Regions from separate parts of the Homo sapiens genome. Here region 2 is linked to region 1. Evidence: fine-mapped expression QTL. Tissue or cell type: tibial artery. Region 1 holds a variant in brackets; the other region holds the start of a gene. All regions are shown on one strand. Distances are between the middles of the regions. Region 1 has its middle 27 kb from the start of LTBP2. Region 2 holds the start of LTBP2 (latent transforming growth factor beta binding protein 2).

Evidence for each region. PIP is the estimated chance that this variant, and not a neighbour inherited with it, causes the effect.
Region 2: it holds the start of LTBP2, and the variant in region 1 is fine-mapped to the expression of LTBP2 in tibial artery (GTEx, PIP 0.98).

What each region holds. Positions count from the first base shown.
Region 1 is chr14:74,634,605-74,642,927 of GRCh38, forward strand. No RefSeq gene overlaps it. Among named protein-coding and RNA genes, the nearest start is that of LTBP2, 27 kb to the left of the region's middle. RefSeq lists a silencer at 442-736. The variant G/A (reference allele first, on the strand shown) is at 3,598.
Region 2 is chr14:74,608,260-74,616,562 of GRCh38, forward strand. LTBP2 (latent transforming growth factor beta binding protein 2) reads right to left here and starts at 3,978. Exons shown (of 36, transcript NM_000428.3): 1 at 3,192-3,978. The coding sequence starts at 3,685. It overlaps LOC101928352 (a long non-coding RNA gene), which reads left to right and starts at 4,926. Exons shown (of 2, transcript XR_944029.4): 1 at 4,926-5,036; 2 at 5,308-5,789. RefSeq lists an enhancer at 4,034-4,661 and a silencer at 4,289-4,608.

The DNA.
Region 1 (8,323 bases):
TGACTCCAACTCAGATTCAAATTCCCCAGGAAAAAGTCTGACAGATCTTGGGTCTATGCTCACCCTTTGAGAATGGAGGGTTGGGAGAGTCCTGTGGCTGGCAGCCCCACCAGGAATGCATGGAATTGGGGAGTTTGAGTTTCCCAAAGGAAAGCTGAGTTTCTGTTACTCAAGGAAGGGAAGAAGTGCTGGGCATATGTGCACAGCAGATGTTCTCTACACATGGGATGTCAATTGAGAGAGGTGGGGGATGGATGGGGTGGGGGATGGGAATTTCCAGGACGCTGCAGAACCTGCCATAGGGGCCAAGGCTCCTGCCACAGCCCTGGATTGCATCTCCCTCTCCTCCTATAAAAGCAAGCTCAGGAAAAGAACATTGTTTCTGTTCTTGACAGCTCCATAGAATTGTCTCCTTAGCTTCCAGTCACGCTCAGCTCCTGCTAGAATAATTACCACCCACCTGTTCTCCATACAAGAATTCACAGCCAGTGGACACACATCTGGCCTGTAAAAGACATGCTTGGAAGTCTCCCAGGCTGCTTGGAACAGGCAGGAGACAACACAGGGTCAGCCACTAATTCAAAGGCAAGGAAACAGCTGGCCTGAGAGCTATGGTCACTGGAGCCTAAGTGGCAGCGAACTCCTCCCCTGCCAGGCAGCTCAATGGATGTGGGACAGGTGTGTCCTGAGACAAACAAACCCCCTGAGACTCAGAGGAGGTTTGAGTGCTGGGCCCTGTCCTCTTCTTCCAGCACATGGCTGTCTTCCCCACCCCCATCTGCTTCTCTAGTGGGTGGAGGGGGCTAATACCCTGCCTTTCTTGGAGTTCCTTTATTTTTCTTCCCATTACTGTTTACATCACTCCCTTCTAAACACCATGGAAATTAAGAAAAGGCCAGGTAAAGTTTTAATGGGGAGGGCCAGAAATATTTTGGTGGTGAAGGTAATTGCATCCAAGTTTTAAGGATGTGGATGCAGAATTGGAAGGGAGCAGGGCGCGGTGGCTCACGCCTGTAATCCCAACAATTTGGGAGGTCAAGGCAAGTGGATGTCTTGAGACCAGAAGTTCGAGACCAGCCTGGCCAACATGGTGAAACCCCATCTCTACTAAAAACAAAAATTAACCAGGCATGGTGGCACACACCCGTAATCCCAGCTACTCAGGAGGCTGAGGCAGGAGAATAGCATGAACCCATGAGGCAGAGGTTGCAGTGAGCCAAGATCGCACCACTGCACTCCAGCCTGGGCAACTGAGCGAGACTGTCTCAAAGAAAAAAAAAATGGAATTGGAAGGGGACTGACTGAGAGAGCCTCTAGGCCAGCGGTTTTCAACTTTTTTTTTTTTTTTTTTTTGAGCAAAACCTTTGTGCAGTGTTTCAGCATTCAACAAATATTTACTGAATGCCAACTCTGTCCCAGGTGCTGTGCTAGGGGATACAGCAGCATGCAATCCAGACCTGATTCCAGCCCTTGTGAGCATACAGTGTAGTGGAGGAGACAGACACTGGGAAAATAATTAGATAAGTAGATCAACAGTGAGCTGCAATTGAAGTAGAGCTAAGAAAGAGACGTATGCAGCTAGATGACCTAATACAGACTTGGGAGGGGATTTGGGGAAGGTATCCCCAAAGGAATGACATTGGAGCTGAGATCTGAAGGGTGCACAGAACTCAGAAAGGAGGTATGGAGGAGGACGGTCAGGAGGAGATGTCATAAGATCCTGGAGGTAGGAAGGCTCTTGTGCTGGAGGAACTCACAGGCAAGGCAAGCAGAGTAGTGTGGGATGCAGGGGCTAGGGATTCAGGGACCAGACTGCCAGGGGTTCAGGAGTCAGATCCAAGATGTGAACAGGAAACTGGGGAGCTCCTGTGGCTGGAAAGGGGCCCGCCCTTGATCTCTCCCCAAACACCCCAACACACATACTTCCCTTTGCCTTATAGCCTCTGAGGCATCTTGGAGGAACGTTGGGGCTTGTCCGAATACCGCTTGAAAACCACAAATCCAGCCCTATTGCCATTTTCAGATGTGAAGACTGAGAATCAACAATTGCCCCCTCCCAGTGCCCTCTCTGTTAACTCTGGGCAGCTAATCCAGCCTCCCTGGAGAGAGTGTGATGCGGTGACAGACTCTGAGGACACTGCAGACAGCTCAGTGTTTCAGGAATGATGGGGACAGCCTTGAGAGCCAGCCCAGGGCTCTGGCATGGGGAATGGACCCCAAAGATGAGAGGTTGGCCCAGTCTGGGGCACTCAGTCTTTTCTGCCTGTGCTGGGAGAGTCTCTGACCCTCTTAGCCCATCCCCATCATTCATCCAGAGGCGCAGGCAGGCCGCCTGCCAGGATAGCAGATCCCACTCAGCTCTGGCCTCAACATTCCTCTCCCCGCCGGGGGGAAAGGTCAAGTGTAGGATATTTTCCCAAGCCCTGGAGAACAGCAGCACCTCCTGATATCTACAGCTACTACCCAGCTTGAAGGGCAACTACCAGGGCAGACAGGCAGGACGGGAGAGCAGTCAGCTGGCCCTCTAAGCAGGGCTGCAGGGGGAAGGGACTGGGGAGGCAGGGCCTGAAATATATCAACAACTTCAGCCCCAAGAAGTAGAGTAGAGAGTGGGTGATGGGAAAAGGGCTTGCATGGCAGGGGTCTGAGGCTGAGGCTCCGTCTGCCTCAGGAAGGCTAAAACGTTCCTGCTTCAACCCAGCTGGTCCTCATTTAACTAACTCCAGGGTCTGGCCTCTCTGGAGACCCCCTGCTGGCCCGTCTGCAGCTCCTGGAGCAGAAGCCAAAAGCAGCCACCAGCTTAGAGACAGCAGCTGAACCCAGAGCCCCCCAAGCAGGAGACAGGCAGTGCAGGCATTGCAGGCCCCTTTGCAACCCTGCAAGGAGTCAAAAGCCAAGTAGGTGGGGCTGGGGGGAAGGCTTCAGAGATAAAGAAGGCAGAGGCAATTGTCTCTAAGCCAGATCAGGAGCAGCTATGGAGAGAAAAATCTCTTGGAGCCTGGAAGGTGGTTTCATCAGTCAAGGCTGTCCTAAGGCAAACTATGCAACAGTAGCCTCCCTTCTTCCCCCGTCTCCCTTCTGCCCCTCATCCAGCACACTGCTCTGTGAGCACTGGGCACTTGCCATCCTGCCATCCTCCCCCAGGGGAAGGCAGGTACAGAGGAACAAGGGAGCAGGTGCCAGAAGGCCTGAATTCAAATCTAGCTGCTCCCTATTCTAGCCGTGTGACCTTCGGCAAAGATCTGAACCTCTGAGACTCTGCTCCTGCTTCTGTAAAAATGGGATGGATAAGAGCTATGTCATAGGACTGTAGAAATGATTGAATGAGAAAATGAAGGTAAAGATCTTAGGTCTTATTGAGTTTGCCATGGATACTCCTCATGGGACAAGAGAGAGAGAAGGGGGAAGTGGGGAAGTACTGGGGACTGTTGAATGATCCAAATGGGATGCCTGATGAATGGGGCAGCTCCCAAATGTTTCAACCCTGTTTCCAAGGTAGAGGCTGGGCCAGAGAGTGGGTGGTGAGGGCCTGAGGTAGGGAAAGTTATTCTGTATTGAAAAGAAAACAGAGAGAGGAAGTCAGATCTCACGACGTGC[G/A]TCAGCCAAGAGCCTGGGCAGACAGTGTCTCCTCCAGAGGAAGGGCTGGTACTCCGGCACTCTGTTGCCCTCTGGCAGCCGCTAAGCTCCTGTTTTCCTCATTAAGCTGTCCGCAACCTGGCCCCCTTTACACTGCTGATAAGGGCCAGAAACAATTCAGAATCCCCAACAGATGGCATCTGTGGTTTTCAATGTCACCTCCCGATGGAATCAACAAGGTGGGGCTGAACTCAGGTGGACTGCAGGGAGTCAGGGCAGAAAAGCACCAACTCTGAGGGGTGGAGTCCAGGATTCGGGAACCTCACTGTGTGCCCAGCGATGTTAGGCCTCGTGGACACATAAAATGGTAAAAGCTAGTATTTGTTGGGCACACACTATTTGCCAAGCTTTGGTGCTAAGCACATAAGTTTATTATCTCATTTAATCCCCATAACAACCCTACGAAGTTGATAGCATTATTATTCCTATTTTATAGGCAGAGGAACTGAGGCAGAGTGCCTCAGGGGCTTATAATTTGTTGGGGAGTCAAGAACACAGGTTAATACCCCCAAGGGAGAAGAGAACAAAATCTGAGCTGTTTCTCACCATCCCAAGTGGCCCTGTCCTCAGTTTTGCATCACTGTCTGCCTCAGTTTCCCCAGATTTCCAGCTACCACCATGGTGGCTGAGCTCAAAAGGCAGCCTCCAATCACTGTTCTAGGGATGGACATGCTCATTTTCCCAAAGTTCAGCCAAGGCAGAATTTGTCAAAATAAGTTTATCTAGGAAACGTAGAAGAGGATGGAACAAAATAATATAAAAAGCAAATGCTCTGGGAAGAGAGCAGCTTATGAGGCAGTTTTCATGTCCCAAGATGAGGAAAATAATAATAGCTATTGGTGTGCCAAGTATCAGACACTGTGCTATGCTCTTGATTATGTTATTTTGTTTAATCCTCAAGGGGACTGAAGTATTACACAAGCATTATTGTCCTCATTTCACAAATAAGGGAACAGATGTTCAGAGAGGTTAAGCAACTTGTCCAGGTCACATAGCTTGTAAGGAATAGAGAGCTAGGAGTCAAGCTTGCCTTTGCTTTTAACAATTTAAATAAAGGAGACAGGCATGGTGAGTACAACCAGCTGACAACCAGACAGGCCTCTTGCTTCCAGGCCCCATTTAGGTCTAATGGAGAGATTTGACTGAACAACCTAGATCCTAAATGGCAGGTTTTCAGGATAGCTCTGCTGATCCTCCATCTGACAGATTTTCAGATCTTGCTCAGGAAATAATCAGAACACTTTTCCTACTGGACAAGTCTGGAAAAAACCTTGGCAAATCTGTACCCTCCAGTTCTCCTAGTCCCCATTTACACAGCCCAAAACAAAACAAACAAACAAAACCCAAAACACCCCAATAAATTAAAACCCTGTATTTGCACTTGCACTTCATTTCAAATGAAGTACACGCCTCATGGCCAGGCACAGTGGCTCAGGCCTATAATCCCAGCACTTTGGGAGGCTGAGGTGGGTGGATCACGAGGTCAGGAGTCCAAGACCAGCCTGGCCAAGATGGTGAAACCCCGTCTCTACTAAAAATACAAAAAAATGTAGCCGGGTGTGGTGGTGGGCACTTGTAATCCCAGCTACCCGGGAGGCTGAGGCAGAGAACTGCTTGAACCCAGGAGGCGGAGGTTGCAGTGAGCTGAGATTGCACCACTAAATTCCAGCCTGGGCAACAAAGTGAGACTTTGTCTCAAAAAACAAACAAAAAACCAAAACAAAACAACAACAACAACAAACAAACAGAAAAAATACCAAATTACCCTCATAACATGCTACAATTTCCACACTATTTCACTGGTTAACTGATGGTTCTTCAAGCCCAGAGATAATGTGAGTAAGCCCGTAACCCAGTGCCTGGCAAGAGATGCGTTGTTGCTGCAATTATCATTAAGAGACCTCTTCCTGTGTTCACATCAGCAAGTCATCCCTGATACCCTTGGAATAAAGCAGTATGAAATTAAGTACTAATTGAATGGTTGATATCAATAGCTATTGATAAGTAATATTTATTAAGCAGCTACTGCATGCCAGATTTTAGTCTATATAGCTTTACACGCATTATCTCTTTTAATCTTTATAACAACCCCATGAGATAGGAATTATTGTTACTCCCTCTGTTTTAAAGACAATGAAACTAAGGCCTGGAAGTACTAAATAATTTGCTTATGGTCACACAACACCCAGATGGCGGGAGTGGGATTTGAACCCAGACAGCTAAGTTCAGAACCTGCACCAGTAACCTCTTTCCTCTCCTGCCTCCCGTGATGGGTTTGACAATAGGATACAGAGGGTCAAAGAAAGAAGATGTCCTTGTGTGCTGGGGGAGTTGGGGGAAGCTTCCTGGAGGGAATGGGCTCTACTGGACTTGAAAGAAGGACAAGAGAAGTGAAGCAAAACAGACATCAATTTTAGGCTGGAAGATGATCCTGAAGTCTCATGGGACCCAAAAATGGGACATCAGGAGAGCTCTCATCTTTGGAACATGAGGGATTGCTTATCCTCTGAAGCAGTGTCATTTGGCCAACTTGTCAGTCCAAGGAAGGACTCAGAGCTTATCAGGAACCTGTGGGGTCTGCACTGGGTCTGTAGCATCAAAATAGAGGAGGAGGACAGCAACAGATCTCCTGGGAGGCCCTGGGGATAGGGCCAGGATTAGATCAACTCCCTGCCATCTCCATACTGATCACAGGATTTGCTTAGAGGAAGTTGTGTTTGGTTTGCTGTGACCATGGCAGGGTTGCCCCAGCAGGTATGGATGCAGAGGGGCTCAAGGACCCACAAGTCTGTAGGAGTTCACAGAAATCTTAGAGAGAAGCTTCAACTTCACTTAAGCCACAAAAATATTGGGGGCTGGGGAAGAATTAAATTCCAGGCTAGGTAGGCTCCCAGCTGACACCATGTTAGAGTCTTCCCGCCCACCACCCGCCAAAGGCATGTCTGGGAGGGCCAAATGAGACATACCTGGCACGTGGCAAGTGCCCTTAAAGGTTCAGCAACTGGCTGGGCGTGGTGGCTCACACCTGTAATCCCAGCACTTTGGGAGGCTGAGGCAGGCACATCACCTGAGGTTACCTGAGTTTGAGACCAGCCTGGCCAACATAATGAAACCCCGTCTTTACTAAAAATACAAAATTTAGCTGGGTGTGGTGGTGCATGCCTGTAATACCAGCTGCTTGGTGGGAGGCTGAGGTGGGAAAATCACTTGAATTCGGGAGGTAGAGGTTGCAGTGAACCGAGATTGCACCACTGCACTCCAGCCTGGGCGACAGAGCAAGACTCTGCCAAAAAAAAAAAAAAAAAAAAAAAAAAAGATTCAGCAACCTTCTCCAGGCCCCATCTTTCAGAGCTCACTTGCTTGGCTGTGGATTACAAATCTGTCAACCAGACTCCCAGATGCCACCTGCTACCTGTTTGTGAACACGCACATCTTCCTGCACAGTCCCCTGTGTGAATATGTGTTACAAACCTTTCCAGGAAGCAGAGTTAAACTGAGAAGATTCTATCTGTTCGGGTCCCAGCGGCCCACAGTATGGCCTCCCTGGACTTAAAGTCTAGAATGACTTTGCATGGATTGAGATGCTATGAGGGTGGAGTGTTATGAGAGCTTGCCAAGCTGAGACTGGCTGGGGAGGGGACATCACAGGTACTCTTAGGAGGCCTGAGAATCCGAACAAAACGGTATCACTAGGCAGAATGTGGCCGAAGCTACTAGTTGGGTGCTGAGCATAGTTCGGCAATTTTGTGAGCATATTTGTAAGAACATATATGTTTATCAGTAGAAATAATGCACTGTCTGGGTTGACTGGCTCTGTTTGTGTACATTCTTGGATCCCAGAGAGCCCTGGGGAGCAATACATCACACAAGCATTTCTCGCCTGAGAGCTGGTCAGAGGGATCATTCCAGGGAAAGCTGGGCTGGTGTTGACCAGCTGAGGTCTGAGAGAGAACATGTGTGCACCCCAAGGCCAGGCCTGGCTCTCATAAGCACTGGTGGAATTTCTGAGTGCATCAGTTACTCTGCACCTGTCCCTTTACACTTAGCCCCAGCCTGGCCTGGCCCGGCCCAGCAAGTCTGCAGCCAGAGGTAGCCTGGAAAGAACTGGCCAACGCTTTCGAGAACCAGGCTGAGGCCAGAAGGCACGCAAAGCCTGAAGGATTCCTCTCTGCTCAGGATCCCATGTGAGAAGTCTGGGGCTCCTGTCACGTATGTTCTCAGCTGTCACCGCACAGCTCACTTTCTTTTATCATGGCCACGTGTGTGCATGTTTTGCTCTCCTACTGCACTTCAAGCCATTGTTACTCAATGTGTGGTCCGTGGGCCCATAGCATCAGCGTCAACCAGGAGCTTGTTAGAAACACAGAATCTCGGGGCCCATCACAGACATATCAGATCACAATCTGTATATTAACAAGAACCCCAGTGATTTGAATGCACATTAAAGTTTGAGAAACACTGCTACTTGAAAGCAGGAGTGAACCTTGTCACGGTGATCTTTGTACAACTAAGCTTTTGTATCCCAGATGCTTGGTGGTAATTAGGTGCTCAATAAATACATGTTTTAACATTTCATTTTGAAATAATTATAGACTTAGAGAAGAGTTGCAAAAATAGTACAGTGATGTATGTGAACCACTAATACTAACAGCTTACATAACCAGAGTACAATTACCAAATTAACATG
Region 2 (8,303 bases), 26 kb before region 1:
GCATTTATAAAACTTCATAATATACTTTAAAACAGATAAAACACAAAATCCTGTTATTTTAACAGAATATAAAGTTAAAGAAAAATAATAACAGAACAAGAGGGAAAGGTAGAGAAAAATATTATACAGGTGGTCTGCTGTGAGGCTGGTTCAAAAAACCCTATAGAGGCCAGGCGTGGTGGCTCACACCTGTAATCCCAGCACTTTGGGAGGCCAAGGTGGGTGTAGTGCTTAAGCTCAGGAGTTTGAGACCAGCCTGGCCAACATGGCGAAACCCCATCTCTACTAAAAATACAAAAAATTAGCCGGGTGTGGTGACGTGCGCCCATAATCCCAGTTACTAGGGAGGCTGAGGCACGAGAATTGCTTGAGCCTCGGGGGTGGAGGTTGTAGTGAACCGAAATAATGTCACTCCAGCCTGAGTGACAGGGCAAGAGACTCTATCTCAAAAAAAAGAAAAAAAAAAAAAGAAAAAAAGAAAGAAAGAATAAAGAAAAGAAAAGAAATGAAAAAGAAACCCTGTAGACTGTAAATTTCATTAGCGTAGGGACGGTGTCCACTCTGGTCACTGCTGTATCCCAAATACCTAGCATCAAGCCTGGCACAAACTTAATAAGTCTTTATTATGTGCAATAAATCTTTTCTACATTGAAAGTTCCATGAGGACAGAGTATGCCTGTCTTGGTCACTGCTATATCCTCAAGATCCAGTATAGGGCCTGGGTATAGAAGTTCTTCCAAAATATTTGTCGAATGAATGAAGAAGCTCCAGTAGCAGTGGTGCAGTTCCAAGATTCACCAGGAGGTGGCACTTGGTCCCTGGCTGTCTGCAGCTCACAAGGCAATGAATGGCCAACCTGATCAGCCTGACTAGAAGCCATTAGCCAGAATGGACCAGGGTGGAGGAAGAGAATAAACAAGATGACCCCTCAGGTCCTCCCCAGCTGACATGGAGTGGCTGACTGGAGTGTCAGGGAACCCACTCTTTATCAAAGCTGCAGAAGACAATGTGGGGGAGGAGCCTGACCAGTGTGTCATGTGATGTGTGCACCTGTGTACAGCAGGTGGCACCCAGCCCATGTCTTCACATGCCTGTTCACATCCACCAGCTTTGTTGTAGTGACAATTCGCTTTATTTCATGACTTCTAATAGTGCACCCTCCAGCCCCCACGCTCCACTTCCCCACCTTCCCCCGCACCTCACCTGCACCTAAATGCCTGCAGTACAAGCTCCTCCCTGCTCCAGCCCAAGCTATGTCTCTAGGTTCCCCTACACCAAAGCTGCAGTGCTACCCCTGGGCCAGTGCCAACAGTAAAAAGCCCTTGTCCTTGGGCAGTGCTACATCTGCACACCACCCTCACCTCCAGGCCCCCCTCCTGCCACCTCCCCTCTGCTTCCCCACATGCTGCCCACAGAGCCCCAGGGGCCCCAGGTCACAGGTCCCCTCTACTCAGCTCTTCAGCTACAGTTGCCCCACTCCTTTGCACTTAACAGGAACCTTCCAGTACTAGAAAGCATCTGTTCATTTCTTCAACGTGATATTAAGTAATTGGGTTGCTCTCCCAGCAGGAACAATGCCTTGGACTCTGGGCCTCCATCCCCTTTCCCATGCTCTGCACGCAGGATCCTTGGAAGCATGCATTCACTTGCACAGATCAGGAAAGGAAAACGCTGAAACACAGCAGGTGCTTTCCACTAAGACTTGTTGAATGATCCTATGTGTAAGCGACTTGGCAGTGCATGGGTCTACTCTCTGCCTGCTTGAAGCTGGGCCTTCCATGGGCAGCAGGGAGTTCATCCACTCATTCAACAGATACCTAGAGAATACCAACCAGTGCAGGCACTATTCTAGGCACAAGAGACACAGAAATGGACACAACGAAGTCCCTGTTTGCATAGAGCTTGCATTAGTGTGGGCTGGGAGGCCAGGCCATAAACACATAAATAGGAATAGAACATATCAGATAGAATAAGTACTATGAAGAAACATAAAGCAGGGTGAAAGGAGAAAGAGGATGGGGCACGGGTGGCCAAAAGTCACTCTGAGCAGAAATCTGAAAGAGACAGAGCTCAATCCTGCTGAAATATGAGAAGAGCGCTCCAGCCAAGGAAAACAGAGCGCCAAGGAAAACAGAGCGCCAAGGCTGCGAAGTGCAAGGTCCTTGGAGTAGGACTCGGGGTACAAGTGTCTTTCATGCTGTTCCCCAGGACTAAACCCAACTGGCAAATCGGGCCCAGGCAAAGAGAGGCTGCCAAAGCCCTTCCCAGACTTCCCGATGGTGCCCCCACCCAGCCCCTCACTGCCCAGGGCTCAGTGCCCTCCATTCCAGAGGCACCTGCCATACCCAGGCAAGGCGGAGCGTGCCCGCAGCCATGATGATCCGATTGGGGATGGGGATTACTGGGGCATCTTCTCACTCTGCGACGGCGCCCGCGGTGGGCAGGGGGTGGTGCCCAGGGGGAGCAAAAAAGTAAATTGCAGGGTTGTGCGGTGGCTTAGCCCTGCAACGCGCCCAAGTCACGCTTACACCTAGATGCACAAGAGCACACTGATCCAATTCTCCACGCGCCCACTGTGTCGCAGCCTCATCAGGACACGCTTCCCGCCCAAAGTACCCAGAGCTCACGCCCACGCCCGCATCCAGCCCTCAGCGTGCGCAGGCCGACCCACGCCCCACGACACTTGTCCCGACGCACCAGCTTCGCTGCCGGCTCCCCTCCTGGAGACGCATCTACCTTCTCTCCATGGGGCCCCCGACACCTCCGCCAACCCGCGCTCTGAGCCAGCTCAACCTCCCCTGGGCGTCAAGAGCCTGGAGCGCCCACCCTCCTGCCCTCTCCCCGCTGCCTCTCAGATCCCGGCAGCGCTGCAAGAGTCTACAAGAGCTCGTTAGTTGCAGGCAGGAGGAACGCGGGCGAGTGGAGAGGCGCCTTGCGAAAGGATTTAACGTCGGGGCTCCGGGAGAGTTGGTAAGAAAGGATGAGGATGATGATCTATCTGCCTTCAACTCTTCGAAAGCGGATCAAATCTTCCAATCCCGATTTTGGAACCTCGGGGCTGTTTCCCGAAGTACTAAAGACAGAGGGACGAGGGTATGAGAGCGGCGCCCTCTCCTCTCGCCTGCACGCCCCTCCACAAATGAGCCCTGGCTCCCCTCTGTACCCTCCAAACTTCCCTCTCCCATGCTCACCCCGTGAGCCGCCCTCGCGGCGGGGTTGGGGGCGCAGCCCCAGACCGCTGTGGGGTCCCCAGGCGTGGGAGAGCCGGCGCGGCCCGGGTCCGGGGTGCTGGTTGCTGCTGGCCCAGGGGAGTGCTTCTCCGGGTCTGCGCAGGTGGCTGGACACGCCGCGACTGCTGCGCGCGGGACGGCCTCCTGGCCTCCGCCTCGGTGGGCCTCCTGGGGCTCCCCCAGCCCGGCTGGGCCCGCTCCACGGGCTGCAAGCCCGCGACAGGCGCGTCCTGCTCCCGGAACAGACTGTACACCTTGGCTGCAGCCGCTGCCGGGTAGCTGCCCCCAGGGCGCCGCAGTCGATTCGCGTCTCCACCAGCCGGCTCGTATCTCCCTACGGGGTCCCTTTGGGCATGACCCGCGCCCACGAAGAGAGCCAGGGTGAGCGGCAGGAAGCCTCTCCAGGGGTTCCGCAGGGCGCGCCCCGGGCTGCGGGCTTTGGTCCGCGGCCTCATGGCGCGGGGCGGCTGGAGAGTGGTGCGCGCGGGCACCGCGAAGAGCTTTGTGGTCGGCACGCTGGACGCCCGCGGGCTGTTCTCCCGGCCCCGCCCGGCGGCCAGCTTCTCTGAGTCTAGGGGGCCCTGAAGCGGCCGACTGGGGGCCCGGCTCTCGGCGGAACGAGGGCTGCGCGCCCCGAGCCTCGAGTCCGCGCTCCTACTCCAGCTGGGCTCGCACGGCTGCTGCACCTTCGCGCCTCCTCCCTGTGCCTGCAGCCGTCTGAAGGGGACCCGGACGGTTTTATTTTTGGAAACCTCCCCCGGCTTTTTCGTCTCTTTTATCCACACCAGGCCCCCTCCTCGGAGGGACAGCTCAGCCCCCTCATTACCGGAGAGGGAGCGAGGAATTCCAGCAACACCCACTTTGGCACCGGGAAGCCAGCGGGCGGCGAGCGGGCGGCGAGGGGGATTAACCCGTGCGGAGCAGGGGGCGGCGCGGGGCTGACCCAGGCGCTGGTCGGGCAGATGGCGCCTGCCACGACCGGGACACTGGGCCGCCTTTCTCCTGCTCTGGGCAAGTTCGAACTGCAGACCTGCCCCGAATCGTTCTCCCGCCCCTCGCCTCAGGGACCGTCTTTGGATCGGGGGACCCAGGCTGCAGCCTTGCAGGTCTGAAGGAAGCCGGGAGGGGCGCCGAGGCCCGCGTAGGGGAACAGGGCCGCCGCCCCCTCCGCTTGCGCCCTGGCCGCTGGGGGCGCCCTCCGCAGGGCCGGCCGGAGCGGGGGTGGCGCGGGGCGGGGCGCGGCGCGCGGAGCGCAGGGAGGTCCCGGGCGCGCCCCCTGGCGGAGCTGGCGGCCCTGGCGCTCCGTGGCTGCAATGCCCTGGCGCCGCCGCCTTCGCTCTGGATCTCAATCCCCTTCCACTGGCGTGAGGGTCACGCCTGAGCCTGGCGCGGTGATGGCTGCCGGTAGAAGAGGGGTCCTCTTTTTCTTTTTCTTTTTCTTTTCTTTCTTTCTTTCTTTCTTTTTTTTGAGACGGAGTTTCGCTCTTGTTGCCCAGGCTGGAGTGCAATGGTGCGATCTCAGCTCCCCGCAACCTCCGCCTCCCGGGTTCAAGCGATTCCCCTGCCTCAGCCTCCCTAGTAGCTGGGATTACAGGCATGCGCCACCAAGTCTGACTAATTTTGTATATTATTTTATTTTTTAGTACAGACGGGGTTTCTCCATGTTGGTCAGGCTGGTCTCGAACTCCCAACCTCAGGTGATCCGCCCGCCTCGGCCTCCCAAAGTGCTGGGATTAAAGGCGTGAGCCACCACGCCCGGCCAAGGGGTCCTCTTTTTCACCGAGGCAAAGACACGGAGCCTCTTGAGTAAGTCACTCAAGGAGATAGCGCATGTGAAAGAGGGGAGTGGAATCTAGGCCTCCCGCCTCTGGCTGAATCCATTCCCGGGATCCCACCCAGCCCTTCACTCTCTCGGGAATTTCCCAGAGGGGGATTCGGTGACCCCGATTGACCCAGTGTGTGCATTCACATCTTGTGTTAGCAGGGAGGCGGGCAGGGGTGTGGGAATGCTGACTGCCGCTGTCTGCGTGTCCCCAGTAATCAGCACACCATTCTCACCCATGCTCCCTCCCTACAGCCTAAAGGCTTGGATCAACAGGGCTGCCCCTGGCACATTTGTACAGCCTATTTCCCAGAGAGGCAGAGTGAAGGAGCTGGCATGTGGGCACCAGTTCACAACCTCCCACACCACACAAAAGACAAGCCCAGGTAATATCTACTGTTGAAATAAAGCCTCGACCCCTGGCCTTGGCCTACAAACCCTAGCTGGCTGCCCCCGCTCTGATTTCATCTGGCCTCTTGCTCTCCCTTACCCACCACACTGTGCTGCCTTGGCCCTCTCTCTGCTCCTTGAACAAGCCAAGTGAATGCCCCCTTCCCTCTACTGGAAGGTTCCTCTCCAGGATGTTAGAGGGTAGTTCCTCATCACTGCTCCTCTCAGATTAAATATCAGCTCCTGGAGTAGCCATCCCTGACCTCCAATCTAGAGCAGCCCTCCCTCACCCCAGTCATGACTCTAACACACCACCCTGTTTCATCTTCATAAAACAGTTGACATCATCTTGTTATTGATTTGTTTGCTCGTGTAACTGAATTTTTTAATGGGCTGAACCTAAAGAGGGACTATCCAGAAACTGCTCCACTACTACCTTCAACCATATTATGGTAAATTTCCCTTTCCCACCCTTAATGACATCTCAGGCAGAGTCCTTGGCTTGAGAGGTCATCCCTACCAGACACGAGAACTATTCTATTAATATAATTAAGACCCATTTTCAGACACAAAAAGTCTGCTCCTGTCCAGATCAAAATCTCATCCAAGTTAATCAATATCACATCCCATTTAATAGTCCTCCTCTCCCCTGTCCCTTTGCTAGAGATCCTGCAGTGGTGAGAGTGGGGTGTGGTCTGTTTTCCTGACCTCCCTTTTCTGCTGTGGCTCCTCTTTGTCAAGGCTGGGAGAGAGGTGTTAGAGGAAAAGTAGCAAAGTCTTATGTGACAGGTACCCTTGGTTGGCAGGTGCCAAGCGCTGGCTTTTTCATGGGCACATATGTGGGTTTTTGGGAGGTTCTCTACAGGACCTCCACCCTGAGTTGCCATAGCAAATTACTCTCTGGCCAACCTCTCGGAGACCCCTGCATCCTCTGTCTCTCATAGGACTGTCCCACCTATGCCAGGCAAAACAATGGTGGGTTGGCCGCTCCTCACCCTGCCCACTTCTCACCTTGCCACACAGGCCACTCCAGCGAGGCTCCACGATCAGAATTCTCCAGACAGGAAGTGCACACAAGTCTCTTCATTTATGTACGTCCTCAATTCCTAAAGACATATGTTGGGTTCTCCCATGAACTGTCTTGCTGTAGTTTAATGCACCGAGGTGCCTGTAACATCCAGCAACATAGTCAGCATCAGTGGGGGGACAGTTATAGGGACAGAGCCTCCTCTTCTTGCAGATGACTGGTTCTCTCTGGGAGCTCCCTTCATTTGGTTTGAGTTGGGGAGTTCCCTCAGGGGAAATCTCAGCCCTGCCCACAAATGCAGCAGTGTTATGCTTCAGTGACTTTCTTCAATCCCTTTCATTTGTAGACTGGAATTGAGGGATGTAGTTTGATTGCTGTTGAACCTGTTCTGCCTTTAGTAAGGTGTCTAGTACTTCTCTTCAGAATGCAAGAATATTTAGCCCTCATTGTTCTATCTTTGTGGCTTCAGCAGATATTCCAAGAGCAGAGGAAAAGTCCTATTCAACAACCTATAAAATCATTTCTTGTCTGACTTCCCAAACCACAATGACAGCTCTAAAGCAACAGATATCTTGTCTGCGTTGCTCACCACTGTTTCTGCAGAACCTAGAACAGCCAAGAAGTATGTGTGAAATGGATAGCTAACTGAATGAAGGACACAGTAATCCCATCAAGTGGGGAGGGCTGGTATCATTAGACCCATTTTAAGAGAGAGGAACTGAGTTCTGGGTGGCAGCTCCTGATCCAGGTTCATGTGCTTGCTGCCTTTGGGGCTGGCTCTAAAGATCTCCTTGAACCCTACCCCTTGCATTTGACCATGAATGCCCCTTAGTTCCCAGAATGCTGCGTTCTGTTCCTGGGATGCTGCTCCTTCACAGCTGTGGAAGCCCCAGGTCCACACTTACCTCTCCTTGCCCAGATATCCACCCACCTCTGTAGTTCTGGGCTCCCTTCCTCTCCCCGGAACCTACCCACTTCCTTCAGAAGCTCCCCTCTAGATCCCTCAAGACCCACCTCAGATCCCCGTGGGCCTCCAAAAGCCAGAAACCTTGGCATCATCTTCGTCCCTGAGCTATTTTTTCCTCCTGTGTGTCCAAGTCATTATTACTGCTCCGTCTCCTCCGTCTGCATTTCTGGAAGTCTGCCGCCCATTCATCCCTCACCCTTCGCCTCCGCCAAAACCCTCACGCAGACCAACTTTCCCTCACCATCGGGCGCCCCTTCCACTCCTCAGTGAGTACAAGTGGTCCTTGGACGTTCCCACCCTGTTCGCCTGGGGACCATAACCCAGTTCATCTACTCCAAAGACTGGCATCTTCTACCCCATCCCGGCGCCACACTCTGTCCTGCCACCTACTTACTGCCCATATCTCCCTTACCCTCTAACTGCTGGGACTGATTGCAGCTCTTCAGAATCTCCAATCCCACAAACACTTGAGTTTTGCTTTTTTTTTTTAACCTGCCAAAATCGATAGAGCCTACTTTAGTCCAAACGCCATACTAAGCATGTTACATCAATTGGCTGATTTAACCAACCAAAGGAGGCATTATGATTTCCACGCATACAAAGGAGGAAACTGAGGTTGGCAATGGCTACTGGCTTGCCCAAGATGGCACAGCTGATAAATAGCAGAGGCAGGATTCAAACCTGGATCATTTTCCACCTGAGCCCAAGCTTTTAAGGTTACACCGCCTTGCCTCCACCCCGGGCTTGTAAGCCTGGAGCCCTCTTCACAATTGAATCATGACCTTTCCAACCACCCCACCACTATCACCACCAAAGGAGCTCTAGGGCATATCCCCAAATGCCCTCTTCCCTGCCTGCCAGCCCACT